2 separate regions of the Homo sapiens genome follow, and region 2 is linked to region 1. A link means that fine-mapping ties the variant in region 1 to the expression of a gene that starts in the linked region. Tissue or cell type: whole blood. Region 1 holds a variant in brackets; the other region holds the start of a gene. All regions are shown on one strand. Distances are between the middles of the regions.

What was found. PIP is the estimated chance that this variant, and not a neighbour inherited with it, causes the effect.
Region 2: TECPR2 starts here. The variant in region 1 is fine-mapped to the expression of TECPR2 in whole blood (TOPMed, PIP above 0.99).

What each region holds. Positions count from the first base shown.
Region 1 is chr14:102,425,603-102,435,971 of GRCh38, reverse strand. It overlaps TECPR2 (tectonin beta-propeller repeat containing 2), which reads right to left. Exons shown (of 20, transcript NM_014844.5): 7 at 7,590-7,722; 8 at 3,844-4,176; 9 at 761-1,737. Among named protein-coding and RNA genes, the nearest start is that of TECPR2, 68 kb to the right of the region's middle. The variant T/C (reference allele first, on the strand shown) is at 4,598.
Region 2 is chr14:102,358,292-102,367,475 of GRCh38, reverse strand. It overlaps TECPR2 (tectonin beta-propeller repeat containing 2), which reads right to left and starts at 4,535. Exons shown (of 20, transcript NM_014844.5): 1 at 4,360-4,535. CINP (cyclin dependent kinase 2 interacting protein) reads left to right here and starts at 4,586. Exons shown (of 5, transcript NM_032630.3): 1 at 4,586-4,631; 2 at 7,889-8,057. The coding sequence starts at 4,625. LOC124903427 (small nucleolar RNA U13) reads left to right here and starts at 8,574; the gene lies at 8,574-8,677. RefSeq lists silencers at 4,002-4,091, 4,132-4,541.

The sequences.
Region 1 (10,369 bases):
GTGGCTGTAAGTGCGCAGCCATAATTCATACCTCACATCGACAGTTAGTAGGAGACAGGGCAAGACACAGTTTTGAAACAAATATATCTAGTAATAATTACTTGCTAAGGGAAGTAGGCACTTTTAAAAAAATCACTTTTAATATAAAATGCTCAAGGACAGTTAAAAGTCATCTCCTAGTTACATGTGCTGGGTGGACCTACAAAGACTGGTTACTCCAAACTGGTTCCTGTACAGCTCGCAGGGGAGCCTTGGAGCCACTGTTCGGAGGTTGAGGAGACAGCAGTTCTGGAAATGGCCTCGTGCTCTTGCAGATGGTTCCTTGGAGGGGTGTGAGGAGAAGGACAGGAGACTCCCTGCCTCCAAACTGCTCAGAGCTTTCTCTACTCCACAGGTGGACAGTCCTCTGCCCACTGGTTTTCTGAGATGGCCCCAGGCCAATTCAGCCCTGCCCTACGATGGCTAACAGTAAGTGCCTACACCAGCCTGCACTTGTGGGGTCAGAGGAAACAGCAAGACGCTACCTTGGTTGGGGAGGCAGGTTACTGAGCAGGGTAGAACAGGTCAGAAGTAGTTCAAGCCATTCATAGTCCCTGTGCTGGAAATCCCCTGAAACCCAGACTTGAAAACAGAGTTGGCCTACGGATTTTGCAGTAGGAATAGAATTTCTTTCCATGAGAAGGAAAATAATCAGTCTTGACAATTATTACCCTTAAGAAAGAAGCCTCAGCTACTTTTCCCACCACCCGAACCCACATACCTGATCTGGCTTGAGCAGCCCGGCGTCCTCTGCACCCAGCCGGCTCAGGTCCTGCTGGGAGCAACTAGGTCCGAGCTCTGTCACACTCGTCTCTGAGGATGAAGAAGGAAGCCCGTGGGCATAGATGTCCTCCTCATCGCTGGACGTCAATGTCTGATCCCGTGGAGGCTGCTCAAGCCAGGGCTTGTGAGTGCTGGCTGCCAAGGCAGAGACCGGAGTCAGCTGTCCTCCCACACTCCCCAAGACACGTTCAGAAATGGGTATTTCTTTCTGACCTGTGTCATCATCAGTGACAGCATGCCAGAGATTTGTGCTGAGGTGGCCAGAGGCCTCCATGCTGGTTAGGATGTCCTGCTCTTGGCTGGGCTCCACGGGGCTGCCTTCATCAGCTCTGGTCCCAGGCAGCCACTGTTCAGCACTTGGGGCCCAGCTGAGGCTGGAAGGCACAGTGAGTGAGTTCAGGAGGGGGACTTCACAAAAAGTGCTTTGGGGGCCAATGGGTTGGATGTCTTCCCCATCATGCGCCCCAGGAGAGCTGTCCTGTTCTTGGAAGGGTAACTGTGTGCTATTTGGTCCATCATCTGCAGGACACGGCTCATCTCCGAGTCCCGTGACATCACTGCCTCCCACATCTTCCCTCGCTCCATTGAGCAGCTCCCGCCCATGTGCATGGTGACAGTGTGGCATTTCAGTTCTAATGTCATCTTCCTCAGCCAGAGAATCAGGCATTGATCCTGACACCTCCAGGACATTAAACGTTTCGGGGTCAGTATTTTCCTGTGGGACACCGTTCACTTCACCATTGAAGCTGCTTTCCTGGTCTGGAGACTCTGCACTTAACTGATCCACGCTACTGCCCAGGACACTTGAGGTCATCGACAGCAAGTCTGTGTTCAAGGACTGGGGACTGTCCCCAGGAAATTCGGAGCAGGGTGTCGATTCCAGGGAGCTGTGACAGGTGCTCCTGCTTCCACCTTCTAATTCAGAATAAGAACATTCAAAATAAGGCACGGTTCTATATGATTAGTAAGAGACTAACTTGCACACATATTTTTGGCTCAAGAAAAAAAATTTTAAATAAAGGATATTTGGTGAATGAAGAATAAACCTCTTAAGTACAAATAATCCCAACAAAGAGATGCTTTCTATGCATGCAAGTACTGAACAAATCCATGGGTTTGAGGGCAGCTAAGAAAAACCAGGGGACAAACTGAGATGTTCACCTGGGTCACAAACCAATTCCTTATAATTATTAAAATGCTTAGAAATCTAATAACATTTCCTTCAGTGTTGCAGTCATCTTAGCTAGAGAGGATTAACAGGAACCAAGGAGTAAAAGGTTTGAAAAATTCAGTGTTACACAGCCATAACAAAGAATGAAATCTGGGCTGTGCACGGTGGTTCACGCTCATAAGCCATCCTAGCACTTTGGGAGGCCGAGGCGGGTGGGCCACCTTAGGTCAGGAGTTCAAGACCAGCCTGTCCAACATGGTAAACCCCTGCCTCTACTAAAAATACAAAAACTTAGCTGGGCGTGGTAGTGGGCACCTGTAATCCCAGCTACTCGGGAGGCTGAGGCAGGAGAATTGCTTGAACTTGGGAGGCGGAAGTTGCAGTGAGCCGAGATCGCACCATTGCACTCTAGCCTGGGTGACAACAGTGAAACTCTGTCTCCAATAAATTAAAAAATAAATAAATAAATAAATAAATAAATAAAAATAAAGAATGAAATCTTGTCCTTTACAGCAACATGGATGGAACCGCTGGCCGTAATCCTAAGCAAATTAATGCAACAGGAACAGAAAACCAACAGCATGTTCTGACTTGTAAGTGGGAGCCAAACACTGAGCACGCATGGACATAAACATGGGAAGGACAGACACTGTGGACCTCCAGAGCGGGAGAGGAGGCGGCATGGGTCAAAAGCCACCTACTGCATACTGTGCTCACTACCTGGGTGCTGTATACCCATGTAACAAACCTGCGCATGGACCCCCTGTATTTAAAATAAAAGTTGAAAAAAAAAAAGAAAAAAATTCAATGTTAAATCCCATATTTGGTAGCATATTCAACACTAAACATAAAATGTCCCAAGTATTTACCAGCATAGATCTTCTGGTTTCCACAACTTTCCACCCAGGCTCACAGAATCTCTGATTTAATCAATGGTATACATGGATAAACCAACACTTTTTTTTTTTTTTTTTTTGAGACGGAGTCTTGCTCTGTTGCGAGGCTGGAGTGCAGTGGCGTGACCTCGGCTCACTGCATCCTCTGCCTCCCAGGTTCAAGTGATTCTCCTGCCTCAGCCTCCCGAGTGACTGAGATTACAGGCACATGCCACCAAGCCCAGCTAATTTATGTGTTTTTAGTAGAGACGGGGTTTCACCATGTTGGCCAGGATGGTCTCAATCTCTTGACCTCGTGATCCGCCTGCCTCGGCCTCCCAAAGTGTTGGGATTACAGGCATGAGCCACTGCGCCCGGCCCCGACATTTTAATTTAAATACTAAAAACTATGCCAGGCGCGGTGGCTCACGCTGTAATCCCAGCACTTTGGGAGGCCGAGGCGGGCAGATCACCTGAGTTTGGGAGTTCAAGACCAGCCTGACCAACATGGAGAAACCCTGTATCTACTAAAAATACAAAATTCGCTGGGCATGCATACTCGGGAGGCTGAGGCAGGAGAATTGCTTGAACTCAGGAGGTGAGGTTGCAGTGAGCCGAGATCGTGCCATTGCACTCCAGCCTGGGCGACGAGCGAAACTCTGTCGCAAAAAATAAATAAATAATATAAATACATAAATAAATATTGAAAAGTACAAAACTGAGACCCTTTAAGCAGGGTGGTGAGTACACACAGGTGTTCTGTCATCATTTAGACCTTACAGTGTGTGTGTGTGTGTGTGTGTGTATTTTCCGTTAATGTGAAGTATTTTGCAGTAAAACTCCTTTGGGGAAGAAATGTATGTGTTCTCTGCTTTTGGATGTATGGAGCATTGCTCACTCAGTGAGCAGCAGCACTCCCAGAGAATCTGGAAAGACTGTAACCCCAGATGGGTGTGTGCCAGCTACAGAGGGTACCTGTCTTCTTCTTCTTCTTCTTCCTTTTCACTTTGATAGGCTTCACGACAAGCTCCTGGTCAAAGTCCTCTGAGCTGATGGCGTTGAATCTCTGTGACAGGGGCTGGCTGCCCTTGCCCAGCTCAGGGGTGGCCTGGAGCCCAGGGGGCAGGAGCCCGGAGCCGCTGTCGGTGGAGTTGAGCGAGCTGCTCCTGCTCCTTGGCTCGCTGGCCACGGAGCTGGCCATGGAAGAGCCTCTGAGCCTCGTCTCAGAAACTGTGGCCCCTGGCAGCTTCTCCGCTTGCTGCACGTGGACACGCTCTGAGCATCCAGACATCTCCAGACCATCTCTCACTAAGAAAGAAGAGTCTGGTTTTACCACTGGTGATCCAAGAGAGAGCTGATGTGCACTTATCCACGTTTGCTAGCCCTAAATACCAGTTGTCACAGAGGCACCAGCCAGCTAAAGAACTGAATGATTCTAAATTCATAGAAACCAGCAAAACTAGGATGGGCACGGTGACTCACGCCTGTAATCCCAGCACTTTGGGAGGCCAAGGCGGGCGGATCACAAGGTCAGGAGATCAAGACCATCCTGGCTAACACAGTGAAACCCCGTCTCTACTAAAAATACAAAAAATTAGCCGGGCATGGTGGCGGGCGCCGGGGGTCCCAGCTACTTGGGAGGCTGAGGCAGGAGAATGGTGTGAACCTGGGAGGCAAAGCTTGCAGTGAGCCGAGATTGCGCCACTGCACTCCAGCCTGGGCAACACAG[T/C]GAGACTCCGTCTCAAAAAAAAAAAAAAAAAAAATCCACCAAAACTAAAAGAATCATACAAAAGACTCTAAGAAACAGTTTTTGTTCTTCAAGAAGCTCATATATTAAAATCAGTAAAATAATTTGCCATAGCTTTCTTTTTATATTTATTTATTTATTTATTTTTGAGACGGAGTCTCAAAATTTAGCAGGGTGTGGTGGTGCACGCCCATAGTCCCAGCTACTTGGGAGGCTGAGGTGGGAGAATCATTTGAGCCTGGGAGGTGGAGGTTGCAGTGAGCTGAGATCATGCCACTGCACTCCAGCCTGCACGACAGAGTGAAACCTGTCTCAAAAAAAAAAAAAAAAAAGTAAAAAAATACTAAGAATACAGCATTTCTCGCTTCAATTTACAAATTATTTACAAATGAGAGATGCCTGTGTATAACAAAACAGCTTAGTTATACTTCATACTAAGACTCTGCCTTGAATATACTTTAAGATTACTCAAAGGGCATTTGAAAAATACATGTGTACCTGTAATTAAGTTTCCTGGAAGAGGGAAAGGTAATTTTCCATTAGAACAAACTCAAGACAGAGAAGTCCATTACCACACAGCATCAAGGCCAGTAGACCGCAGAGTGAGAACAGGCATGTGAGTACCTGTCTCCTGTCCCCAAGCCCAAGGGCCAGTGAGCTTCCCACTGCAGTGGACTCATCTTTTCTGCAACACGACACCACAGGGCACAAGGCCAGAGCAGTTCCAGCTACAGTACCCTCAACACAAGACCACAGCCCACTTTGATCCATTCGCCATCCTCTCTTTATCGGGGATCCTCCGTGTGCCAGACACAGGGCTAGCTGCTGGGACATGGCAGTCCATAAGACACAGGAATTCCTGCCCTTGAAGCACCCACATTCTATTGAGGGCATGTGTTAGGGGCAGACTGCAGGCAATGAAGTGTACACTGGAGACTGGAGGGGAGGACTCTGCTGTGAAGCGACTTGCTGAAGATTACATAACTTAATGGCAGATCTTGCCTAGAGCTCCCTGTCCAATAGGCAGCCACCAGCTACTTGTAAGTATTGAAATTCAAATTGATCAAAATTGAACAAAATTTAGGCTGGGCGCGGTGGCTCATGCCTGTAATCCCATCACTTTGGGAGGCTAAGGTGGGAGGACTGCCTGAGCTCAGGAGTTCGAGACCAGCCTGGGTAACATGGTGCATGGTGAAACCCCCTTTCTACTAAAATACAAAATATTAGCCTGGTGTGGTGGTGCACACCTGTAATCCCAGCTATTCGGGAGGCTAAGGCAGGAGAATCGTTTGAACCCAGGAGGTGGAGGTTGCAGTGACCAGAGACTGCACCACTGCACTCTAGCCTGGGATACAGAGCAAGACTCTGTCTCAAAAAATAAAATAAAATAAAATAAAAATTAAACAAAATGTAAAATTCATCTCTCAGCTGCACTTGCTATATTGCAAGTACTCAGCAGCCACACATGGACAGGGACTGCCTACCAGACAGGGCAGATGGGAGCATCTTCATCACTGCAGAAAGCTCTATGGGCAGCAGAGGTCCAGAGCTTAGCCTGGTGGCTCCAAGTCACCACCCTTCCTGAAAGCCATTCTAACCCTTTGATGACACTGTCTGAGGGGCCCCCAGCTCATAAACTCAAGAGTCAGAGCTTATTCACTTCTTATACAAATTATGTTTTGGAATATTCACCCCAATTTGCCCTCTCTGACATCAGAGGTAATGGTAGTGAGGAGGAGGGTGATGGGGTCCACATGGCTGTTGTTGCCACCATGAGGAACAAGTTCCCCGAGGAACCCAAATATATAAAGCATGTGGATGTCCGCAAGAGGACACATATTAGGATTCTTTGCTCATTAAAATTTGGGCTTGTATGAATTACCAAAAAATGTCAAAAGCACAGAGAAAAATAAATCCTACAAGGAAGAACTGAGTTAAGGGTAAACGGTATGTCCCAGATGACAGATTTAAATATTCTAAAACTCTATGCAAATCTATGTCTTTTGGAGCATTAATCCCACATACTGTCTCAGACGGAGAGCAGGGATCAGTAAAGTGGTTTCTGATTTTTCCTTCCTCCTTTCTCAATCTCCCCATCTTCCACAACCATGAAAGCAACTCCACTAAATGTGAGACTATCTGATGTAAGCCTTAAAGTAGGTGACTTTCAAGAAATGTACTGTAAATGCTATTTTAACAATCAGAGGAGCGGCCGGGCACAGTGGCTCACGCCTTTAATCCCAGCACTTTGGGAGGCGGAGGCAGGCGGATCGCCTGAGGTCGGGAGTTTGAGACCTGCCTGACCAACATGGAGAAACCCTGTCTCTACTAAAAATACAAAATTAGCCTGGCATAATGGCGCATGCCTGTAATCCCAGCTACTCAGGAGGCTGAGGCAGGAGAATAGCTTGAACCTGGGAGGCAGAGGTTGCGGTGAGCTGAGATCGCCTCATTGCACTCTAGCCTGGGCAACAAGAGCGAAACTCCATCTCAAAAAAAAAAAAAAAGAATCAGAGGAAACCCTCCAAATCCTCCAAGTTCAAATAAAGTTGCAATAGTTTAGCAAAATAATGGTAAGTTTTTGGTTTTGTTTTTGAGATGAGGTCTCACTCTGTCATCCAGGCTGGAGTGCAGTGGTGCAATCTTAGCTTACAGCAACCTCTGCCTCCCAGGCTCAAGCGATCCTCCCACCTCAGCCTCCCGAGTACTTGAGACCACAGGCGCATGCCACCACGCCTGGCTAGTTTTTTGTATTTTTGGTAGAGACAGGGTTTTACCATGTTGCCCAGGCTGGTCTTAAAGTCCTGAGCTTAAGCGATCCACCCACCTCAGCCTCCCAAAGTGCTGGGATTACAGGCGTGAGCCACCATGCCTGGCCCAATGGTAAGTTTGATCAATTATTAACTGCAATTACAAACAACAGAGTATAGTACTTCCCATCATATACATGGTACATTTTATAATAAATACAAACCTGTTGATGTTAATCCTTCAGGCCTGCTTGAAATTCTTATAATGTTCCTATCTCCTTTCAAGAAAAATATTTCATTTTCTGTGCACGAAACAGACACAATATCACCGGATCCTTCCAAACCAGCAACTGTGGCCTGTCAAAAAAAAAAAAAAAAAAAAAACAAAAAACACAAAACTAAACAACGGTAACAGCTCAAAGCATAAAAATGCATGTGTGAGAGTCCAAATCAGTCAAATGATAACTGCACTTTACTATGGTAACTTTCTGAAAATTCCAATTCAATCCAAAGTTAGGTAACATCTCACAGATTGGTAAGCAGGATCTGAGGGGTCCCCTGGCATGGTGGGGCCTCGGTCATCTCCGACCCACGTACCACCCTGCCCTCGTCCCTGCTGCAGGTGCACCGGCCCTGCCAGCCCAGTCCCAGCCCTGTTCCTCCATGGTGAATGCACGTGCTTCTCTTTCTGCTCAAATTCCTTTCCTATCCATGTTTGCTGGGGAAGTTCCAGTTCTCTCCAGACGCCACCTCTGTGAGAAGCAGCCTCTGACAAGCTTGCCCTCTGCTGCAACACCCAGGGCTCTCAGGGCTTGCAGCACCTCATCCAAACTTCCGCTTGACGCCCCACTCCTGGGCTGAAATAACGTGCAGACACGTCTAGTCCCCCTACTGTGTGCATTCCTGCAGGAGAGGCCAGTGCGCACTGCAACTCATGGGTTTTGAATGAATACATGAAGGGAGGGGAGGTTCCTCCAGCATTATCTGAAAGTGGGTGGCAACAAAACACAGGACATCCTGAGCCCACACTGACTTAAAGCAAGTCCTTGCTTTGCTGTAGACAGTGCAAATAAAGAGACTAGTCTGTTGTAGAAGGAGAGTCTATGTTTTTGGCTAATTTTAAATAACTGATGGACTGCTGCAAACATAACATTTGTTTCCGAAAGCTGCCAGTCATGCTGCCACTGGGTGGTCCAGTCTCTGAGGGTGACTGTGACATCTGTCCCAGACGGTCCCCTGTCTCCATTTCTCTACCTATAAAATGAAGTTAATTATACCTACTGGGTAAAGCATCGGGTAAATGCTCAGATGAAAGAACCAATGCACAGTTACAAAGCATCTTGATGCTACTAATTAATAAGTGCACATAAGTTCAAAAGGTATCCAGGGAAAGAAGTTCTCTGTAACTGAGGAAAGGGTGCAAAAATACCTTTCAGAATATCCCTTATAAAATGAACAAACTCAAGGCACCTTGGTGATTCCCCTAAGTCGATGCTTCTTCCACCCCCACCCCATTTTACAGGAAAACAAACCAGGCTCCGGCCGATAAGAGACTCTTGGTTAAAGGCAGAACCAGGCTAGAAGAGTCGAGTCTAGTTCTGCCCCCCACCCCGGGCCAGTTTTCTTTCTGCCAAACCAGTGTTACCAGGTACGGCTGATAATAATTCATAAAACTTCAATGAGGAGAAGATGAACTTCATGTTCTGCTGACACACACCAAAGAAGAAAACCCTTTCTTTTCTTTTTTTCAAATGAAGTCTTGCTCTGTCACCCAGGCTGGAGTGCAGTGGTGTGATCTTGGCTCATTGCAACCTCCGCCTCCCAGGTTCAAGCAATTCTCCTGCCTCAGCCTCCCGAGTAGCCAGGACTACAGGCGCCCACCACCATGCCTGGCTAATTTTTGTATTTTTAGTAGAGACGGAGTTTCACCATGTTGGCCAGGCTGGCCTTGAACTCCTGACCTCAGGTTATCCACCTACCTCGGCCTTCCAAAGTGCCCAAAGTGCTGGGATTACAGGCGTAAGCCACTGCGCCTGGCTGAAAACTGTTTATTTTCTACAGTGAGGCTCTGCTTATAAAAGAAAGGGGTGCCTGTCAGAGGCCCGCTGAGCTCAGAATGGAAGAACGTGAACAGGACAGGGCCTGGTCTAGAGTCTGGGGGTGAGGAGTCGGGAGGGTAAGGCAGGGAGTTTATTTTAAAAAGAGCAAAAGCTCTGCTCTTAAGACAAGGAGAAACTGAAACTAAACAGCTTTGTTTAAAGTTTCTAAATCTGTCTCTGATGATAATCTGTTATCATCTTGGTTTAAGCAGAAATTATTTCCTACCATGATTTTAATGATGTTGGAAATTTGCCCAAGATATATTGCTAAGTAAAGAAAACTGAAAATAAAAAACAAAAAACAAAAAAAAAACCAAGTGGCGGCCGGGCGCGGCGGTTCACGCCTGTAACCCCAGCACTTTGGGAGGCCGAGGCTGGCGGATCACCTGAGTCAGGAGTTCGAGACCAGCCTGGCCAACATGGTGAAACCCTGTCTCTACTAAAAATACAAAAAAATTAGCCAGGCGTGGTGGTGCGCACCTGTAATCCCAGCTACTTGGGAGGCTGAGGCAGGAGAATCGCTTGAACTCGGGAGGTGGAGGTTGCAGTGAGCCCAGATTGCACCACTGCACACTGCACTCCAGCCTGGGTGACATACTAGGACTCCATCTCAAAAAAAAAAAACAAAAAAAAAAACCAGGCATGGTGGCTCACGCCTGTAATCCCAGCAATTTGGGAGGCCAAGGCGGGCAGATCACGAGGTCAGGAGTTCAAGACCAGCCTGACCAACATTGTGAAACCCTGTCTCTACTAAAAATACAAAAATTAGCCAGGCGTGGTGGCATGCGTCTGTAATCCCAGCTACTCAGGAGGCTGAGGCAGGAGAATCGCTTGAACCTGGGAGGTGGAGGTTGCAGTAAGCCGAGATCATGCCACTGCACTCCAGCCTGGGTGACAGAGCGAGA
Region 2 (9,184 bases), 68 kb after region 1:
TAGAATAGGCAAGCTGTAGGCAGAGTAGGTCAGTGGTTGCCCAGGGCTGGGAGAAGAAGGGGTTAGGGTGTATTGCTGAAGGGTACGGAGTTTCCTTTTAGGGTGATGAGAAAGTTCTAAAATTGACGTAGTGACGGTTGCATAGCTGTGAATACAGTAAAAACCATTGAATTGTATATAAATGGGTGAACTGTGTGGCATGTAAATTATATCTCAATAAAGCTGTTACCCCCCAAAAAACAAAGGAAAATATCAGCTCCTTCAAAGAGAAATCAGACCATACTACCCATTCTACTCAAAACTCCTCACTGGTTGCCCAGTGCTCTAAGAATAAAAACCAAATGCCCCGTGTGGTCTAAGCCCTTTGCAGCTCCCCTGTCACCTCTCTACCCGTCTCCACTTGTCCTCCAAGTTCTAGCTCCACTGACCCACTCTGTCCCACTCAGGTGTCATAATTATTTCCTCTATGCAGAATAAATGATCTCACTCCATTTATCTGGCTTCTTCTCAACTGTGGGGTCTCAGCTTAAATATCACCACCACAGAAAGGCCTTCTCTGACCAGATCACTCAAGAGTACCCAACTGTCCCTTCTTTCCTCTATCATATGTGCTTCATAATCCTCATTACAACCTCTAATTGCTTTATTTGCTAAACCATTTAAAAATCATCTCTCCTACAAGAATGTAAGCAACATGAATTCTCTCTTGCTTACCAAGGTAAATCCTAGTATCTAATAATAGCTTTGGCACAGAGTAGATGCTCAGTAAAGATTTGTTAACTTCAGGTCTTACTGCAAAACAATAGTCTCAATCCAATTTTTAAAATTGGGCTGGGCATGATGGCTCACGCCTGTAATCCCAGCACTTTGGGAGGCCGAGGTGGGAGGATTGCTTGAGGCCAGGAGTTCGAGACCAGTCTGGCCAACATGGCGAAACCCATCTCTACTAAAAAATACAAAAATTAGCCAGGTGTGGTGGCGCACACCTGTAATCCCAGCTACTTGGGAGGCTGAGGCAGGAGAATCACTTGAACCTGGGAGGTGGAGGCTGCAGTGAACCAAGATCGTGCCACTGCACTCCAGCCTGGGTGACAGAGTGATATTTCATCTCAAAAATAAATAAATAAATAAAAATATAATGAATAATGCTTCCTTAGTCATGACTATTTCAGTTAAAAAAATACAAAACACCACCCTATGGCATCCTTCAAGTTACGATGCTTCCTTTCCCCACTAGCCCTGTCAATCTCATAACCCTGGAAGGTGGCAGCTAGCCTTCACTGCTGACTACTAACACCCAACTGCCACCCAGATGGATGATTTCTCAAACTGGAGCTAGGACTAATATAGAGTCTAAGTCATCCACTTCGCTGTACAATAACCATGTTATCAGAGTGCTCTGGGTACACTAATGGTTTCAGGATTCTCTCCAAAATCCCTAGGAAGCAACAATTTGTATCCCTATTGTAGAATCTATGTTTGAAATCTGGCTACGACATCTATTAATTATTTGAGTATTAAATTATTAAGGAGGAACGTAATGAGACTGAGGCAGTCATTTATCTTCCAGACAAAATTTTGTCACTTCCTTGCTCCCATCCCCATTGGCTACCCAATGGTCACAAGCTAAAGCCTAACACAAGCATGGAAATTAGACACTATGACAAAACAGTCTATATCTAACTTCATCTCAGGCCACTCTTCCATCCACACACTGTGCACTCCCTACCCTTTAGCAATCACCCCTCTACACGCTTCTTCTCTCAGCCCTGGGCAACCACTGATCTCCTCTCTGTCTACAGTTCGCCTATTCTGGAGATTTCATCAAAATTGAATCATATAATATGTGGTATTTTGTGTCTGGTTGCTTTCACTTAGCCTAATGTTCTCAAGGTTCCTCCATGTTGTAGCACAAATCAGTACTTCGTTCCTTTTTATTGCTGAACAGCCTTCCATTGTGTAGACAGGCCACGTTTTGTTTGTGCATCCATCAGCTTTCCATCACAGTCCCTGCACACACCATAACCTGTATGTCTCTGCAGAACAAAGTCCCTTTCCACTCTTCCCTATTCCCCCACATGTGCCCTGTAAGAACTAGTCCTCCGCCACCAGGAAGCCTTCATAAATTCCCTCAGATACTTGGTTGGTCTTTCTCTGCTTTCACAGAACTCCATGATGGCAGTTATCGCACAGCACCATCATTATCTGTTTTCTCTCCCCTTCAATGGACTCTTTCTCATCTTCACCTATGTTCTTCTAGTCTGTATACTTTGTGGTGCTTTAAAAGACCAATAAAGAGTATGGTACAATCAATGCTCAATACACGTTTGTTGAATGAATCTCTCTCTCAAAGCACTGTGCTAGATTCACCCAAGTATGACAGCCCTAAATATAAAATAGTGGCAAAAAGTCAATAGAACTCTTATGTCCAGGTCCAAAGAATACATTCATTTTAAATTGAACATGCATCTTGAGTAACAGCTCCCTTCTACCTTAGCAATTCGCAAAGCCATCAACTACTCCCTTCTAATTTTACTGATCTCTCTGTGCATTACTGAATCTAGAAATCTCTTCGTGCTTGACACCAAAGCTTTTCATTATAACCCTTTCCTGATCTATTCCTCATCTTCCCAAGTTCAATCAACTGCCTCTGCCTGATGCCTGTTTCCTTCCTTTTCTTCCCACTAAGTTCCAGTAGCCATTTTTTTCAACTCCTACAGCGGCTAATATGAAATGAAATTCTCCCCAAACTTAAGTGTAACTTCTTTAAGAAAAAATTGGAAAAAAAAATCCAGTAGATGCCAGTCTTCTATTGAAAAAGACACGTGGGTATAATATAGCTGATGCCTAACAAAAGCTACTTCCTAGTCACTCCTTCAGAAGAGGGTTATCCTCATTCCATCTTCCCCACCACTGGTTTTCCAAGGCAGTCCTGAAAATTCAATTTGTGTGTCCCCTACACCTGCACTTAGTTCTCCCTTTTAAAGTTCATGGGCCAGACCATGATCTTTCTGAGGCAGTGACCTCAGGAAGGGTCTGTCTGGTTCACCACAGCATCCCTAGAGCCAGCCTGGCACAGTGCTGGCACACGATGGCCAAATAACCACCAATATGGGACGTAAGTCAGGTTAACAACAACAACAACAAAAATAAGGTCAGAGGTTTATCAAGGTACATTATAGCTGGGTGTGAGAAAACACAAAGTCCTGCAGCCTAAAAGACCAGGAATCGCTGGTGATCACAAGGAGCTACAGTGGCTTCATTCCCAGATTCTACCTATGCCTGGGATTTGCGTTTTGAGATTTCCCAGAACTCTGTCTACAAGACCTTGGCTGCAAGGAGGCAGTCCACAAGTGCAACTGGTCACTCCAATAGATGAGAAAAGGATGCACCCAGGCTGGTATCCCACATTCTGCCAACACATGGAACATAAGTCACAGAACAGAATAAAATTCCTGAATCCCAATAAGAGAGGAAGAAAAAAGTGCAGGGAAGAGAAATGGAGGTAGAGAAGGAGAAACTAAAGTCATGAGAAGTCAGAGACATATCAGAAGGGACTAGAGGGCGAGAACGCAGGCTAGCACAGATGACAGCAGGGGCTCCCCTTTACTGAAATGTACAGCGGCAGGCACCGTGCTTAACTTTACATGCACTGACCCATTTAATCCTCTTACCAAGCCAGAGGTAGAAACTATTCTCATCTCCATTCCACTGGTGATGAAACTGGAGCGGAGTGAGGTAGGGCACTTGCCCCAGCACAGAGCTAGGAAGGGGCCGCTGGGACCTGCCCGGCTCTGACTCCAGGACACCCCATCCTTTAACACTTACTACCTATTCTGCCTCCCATGCCTTCAAATAGGATTGGGAAAGGAGTCATTCACTTATCCACTCATCGAACACTGAACACCAACTGGATGAGTGTCAAGGCCTGGGGCCAGGCGCCGGTGGGCGGATGTAAGGGACGCGGGCTGCGAGTGGGGGACAGAACACGACGTCAATCTTAAGGCGAAGGAGCAGAGCCCGCGGCCAGACCGGCAGCCGGGATGCAGGGTGGGGCCGGGGGCCGAGGGCGCGGGACGCGCAGCGGAGGCCTGAGGAGGGGCGGGCGGCCCCTGTTCCCCGCTGCGGACCGCCGGATTCTGCGGGCGGCGAGCCAGGCGCTCCGTGTGTTGTGGCATTTAGTGTCCGCCACTCCGCGCGGGCGAGACCGCGGGCGAGGGAGACGGGGCGGACGGGCATGGAGACCCTGCGGGGCTGAGGCAAGGGAAGAGTGGCCCGGGGGAGGCCGAGGAGGGGCTCGGGGCCAGGCGTCGGGGGCGTCGGGGGCGTCGGGGCCGCTTGCGGCGTCGCCGGACTCACCTCCCGCGGCAGCCCCTCCGGACTCGTCGGCCCCGCCGGGCCGGAGGAGGCGGGATGGACTCCGGGCCGCGGGGGCTGCCGGGAGCCTGTTCCCTGGGCAACGGGGCCGGCACCGGGGCCAGCACCGAAGAGCAGCAGCTGGCTCCGCCGGGGGCTAGAGCGGCAGAGCCACAAGTGGCAGCGGGCGGGGCGGACGTGACGCAAATGCGTTTCCGGTGGGGTGGGCGGGGCTTCGCGTCTCCTTCTACGGATATCTGTGGACCTTATGGAAGGTGCGTGAGATCGGTTCCTTTCCCGGGGTGGGGTGGCTGTGAATGTTACTGCTTAGGCCGCAGGTTGGACCAGAAGCTCAGGAGCTCCCCGGATTACATGAGGTTAAATGGAGGTCCTCTGTCTTACCCCAGCCTAGCCCGCAGGCCCCTCGCAGCCTCTGCGAGCTGCTCGGGAGACAGTTTTGCCGAGCCTCCGTTTTTTCACATGTGCAGTGACAGATGAACGGGACGATATACGCAAATGAGTGTCAGCAGATCCGACATCCAAATTGTAATTATTGTCACTATAAATTAGTACTAACAGAGTTCACTGGGTACCAAGCCTTGCATGCTCATCTCGTCCAGAAACTCCTCTCTGAACTGCCCTCAGTCAGAACATTCTGCTTGTAATGAAAGCTGGCTTTCGCCTAGTGCTCAGTTTGCTGAGTACTGCTCCAAGCACTTTAAGTGGATCATCTCATTTGAACCTCACAGTGGTCCCATGAAGTAATGTCAACCCCATTTTGCAGATGGGGAATCGAGGCTCAGAGGGGATAAGTAACTTAGCCACTGTGCCCTCACCCTACCCTGTCCTGTGACGCTGATGACTGGTCTGTCTTTACCAGCCCTTGAGTTTCTTGAAGTCAGTTATGTTTTTGGTTCCTAAATATGTGCCCCGTATGAGTCAGGCTGACCATGAATCAGATGTGATCCTGCCCTCAGAATCTCCTGTTGGGGGGAAAACCCTTAGACAATTATAGAACAGGTGGTAAGAGCTATTCCTCCATTTACCTCATTTTATGCAAAGCCTCCTATGTGTGGAAGGTTTGAAAGAGAACGAGACATAGTTCCTACCCTAGTCGAATTTCCAGTTTAGCAGGGAATATAGACATTAAACAAGCAAATACACTCCACTGGTGAATATCATGATAGCAGAATTATAGGGTGTACCACATATCTAGTGGTGAGTCGTAACCCAACCTGGGGGATCCAGGAATACTTCTCTGTGGAAATGACTTTCTAAAAACCTAAATCAGATAATTTCACTGCCCTATCCAGAGCTCATTGCTCACTCCCCATTGTATTAGGTTGGTGCAAAAGTAATGGCAATTTTGGCTGTTAAAAGTAATGGCAAAATCTGTTACTTTTGCACCAAGCTAATACTTAGAAGTCCAAACTTCATTTTTTTATTTTGTTTTGTTTTGTTTTGTTTTGTTTTGTTTTTGAGACGGAGTCTCGCTCTGTCACCCAGGCTGGAGTGCAGTGGCGCGATCTGGGCTCACTGCAAGTTCCGCCTCCCGGGTTCACGCCATTCTCCTGCCTCAGCCTCCTGAGTAGCTGGGACTACAGGCGCCCGCCACCACGCCCGGCTGATTTTTTGTATTTTTTTAGTAGAGATGAGGTTTCACTGTGTTAGCCAGGATGGTCTCGATCTCCTGACCTCGTGATCCGCCCGCCTTGGCCTCCTGAAGTGCTGGGATTACAGGCGTGAGCCACTGCCCTCGGTCCAACTTCTTATCTTGGCCTATTAGGTTCTAGTTGTCTGATCACCTACTCACGCACTAGTCCTTTTCTGTCTATTTCATTCCAGCACACTGGTTTTTTTGTTTGCTTGTTTGTTTTGTTTTGTTTTCTGTTTTTTGAACTCACCAACCTCATTATCATAATTAGGGCACATACTACTGACCTACCCTATTTCTGGCTTTTCATCATTCAAATCTCAGCCTAAACGACACCTTCTCAGGGGATCACACTAACACAAGACCCTGTTTTATTTTCCACACACACTTAATCATGATCTGAACTGATCGTGGTCATTTGTTTATTATCTGCCTCCCCTTTGGAAAGTAAGTTCCATGAAAACGGTCCTGGTCCGTCTCATTCAATCACTTCATTCCCCCATGCCTGGCGTATTGTAGGCAGTAAGCAAATATTTGTTGTTTAAGTAAAGAATGAATGATAAATCAAGATGATATTTTAAAGTGAGGATACTAAGTATGAGGCAGGGGAGTGGGGACACACACAGATAGGAAAAATATTCCAGGTCAAAGTCAGAACTTGTACAGAGCCAGCTCTGATGCACAGAGGGCAAGTGGGAAAGGGTAGAAGCTGAAGTGGTGGGCAGAGCTTGGATAGTAGAGGCCCTTGAGCTAACAGGTGAGATACTGGGTTTTTGCCTTGTGCGAGGCCTCACAGCTTCACATATATTATCTAATCTCAGCAATCCTATGAAATAGATACTATTTTTATTCCCATTTTACAGATGAAAATGTTGAGGCTCTGAAAGGTACATTAAGTTGCCCAAGATCTCACAGCTGGCGAGCTGGGGTTCAGACGCAGGCAGTGTGGTCTTCTGACTTGAGGCATCAAACCATCCAGCTGTTGTGTGTCCTGGATTCCTCAAGAGGACTTTATCCTGTGGGCAGTGAGAAGCCTTTGTGGGGTTCAAAGTAGAGAAGGCAAGAGGGCACAGGAGGGTTCGGGGAGAACAAACAACCTGAGTTGGCTCTTGGTGGTCTGGGGGTTGCTTCCTACAGGCAGTGGGATCCGGGTGCATCTTGGAGGATGGGCATCGTGAGCCTGAGGAAGGAAGGAGCTTTCCTGCAGAGAGAACACGTGTAAAGGCCTGCAGGCACCTCAGCTTTTCAAGAGCTGCCAGTAGTTCATTTTCGCTGGATATTGACGGGGGGCCAAGGTGTGGGTTGATGTACGTGATGATGTGGAGGGGTAGCTAGGTCTGGAAGGATTTTGGACTTCCTCCTGATTACCAAGAAGGGCAGTGGCAGCATCGTGATCAACTCTGCATCTCTGTTGTCTCAGTGTCTTGAAATGATTAGCACTCATGGGCCACGCTACTCTGAGCAAATTTAAAGTATCAGAGTGCCTGAGACTAGATAGTGGAAGTACTCGGGAGTCAGGGCTAGATTATCCTGTAGGGAAGGGAACGTGAGCCATTGAAGAGTTTTAGCAGACAGTCACAACTTTACCTTATTTCCAATCTTTGGAAAACAAAGGGCTTAAGGTAAAAACTTTGTGGAGCCATTAAGCTGGAAGAGGATTCAGCTCTATCTGGTGAATTTTAAAATGTTAAAAATATTCTATATTGTCTTCTTCCAGGAACTTTCACATTCATTCAGACTTTGTAGTTTCCACATTTATTTGTCCAGTTGATACAGCATTTCAGATAGTTTTACTGTTGAAAATTATAAGGACATTTGCCCTCCAACTATGATTGTATATTCCATGATAATAATTTTGTTTCTTTTATACCCTATCAGCAAAGACTCTTGGAACTGTAACGCCCAGAAAACCTGTCTTATCTGTCAGTGCAAGAAAAATTAAGGACAATGCGGCTGATTGGCACAATTTAATCCTGAAGTGGGAAACCCTCAATGATGCAGGTTTTACCACTGCAAATAATATTGCCAACTTGAAAATCAGTTTATTGTAAGTACATATTGGTTTTTCATGCTCTAAGTTTTTCACCCTTAATAACTGGGGAAATAATGTGAATAAATTTTAAAATAAAATATTAAGCAAAAAAAGCAAGTGGTAAGATGATACGTGTAAGTATAAATTGTATTGTACATTTTAAATACAAAATTATATTCCATATATATATATATATATATATATATTTAGTTATTTATTTATTTATTTTTTTGGAGATGAAGTCTCACTCTGTTGCCTAGGCTGGAGTGTGATGGCGCGATCTCAGCTCACTGCAACCTCTACCGCCTGGGTTCAAGCAATTCTCCTACCTCAGCCTCCGGAGTAGCTGGGATTACAGGCGCCCGTCACCACACCCAGATAATTTTTGTATTTTTAGTAGAGACGGGCTTTCACCATGTTAGGCTGGTCTCGAACTCCTGACCTTACGTGATCCACCTGCCTCAGCCTCCCAAAGTGCTGTGTGAGCCACCGTGCCTGGCTATTCTGATTTTTAAAACCACAGATTCTTTGATTCTTTTGTAGTTCATAGGCATAATGATTGGGTTTTCATGCTCATGTATGACCTGTGCCTTCCTCAAACTTTGCTATGATGTTGGCACATTACCTAGCTGATATGGAAAAAACTACCATGAATTCTTTTCATCCATTTTTGGATTTTACGTAAACAAAAAACATATGTTATTGTTTCCTTTATATCTCACTTTCTTTTTCTATTTTTTATTTTTTATTTTTGGAGACGAGTCTCACTCTATCCCCCAGGCTGGAGTGCAATGGCGTGATCTTGGCTCACTCTAACTTCTGCCTGTCAGGTTCAAGTGGTTCTCCTGTCTCAGCCTCCTGAGTAGCTAGAATTACAGATACCTGCCACCATGCCCGGCTAATTTTTGTATGTTTAGTAGAGACAGAGTTTCACCATGTTGGCCAGGCTAGTCTCAAACTCCTGACCTCAAGTGATCTGCCCACCTTGGCCTCCCTAAATGCCGGTATTACAGGCATGAGCCACTGCGCCCAGCCATGTCTCACTGTCTTTCAACATGGAAGCCATGCGTGTAATGTAGAGCCACTATTCTGGTTCTGTTCTTTCTCATTGCTGTTTAATAGTGTTTACCCACATTAGACCT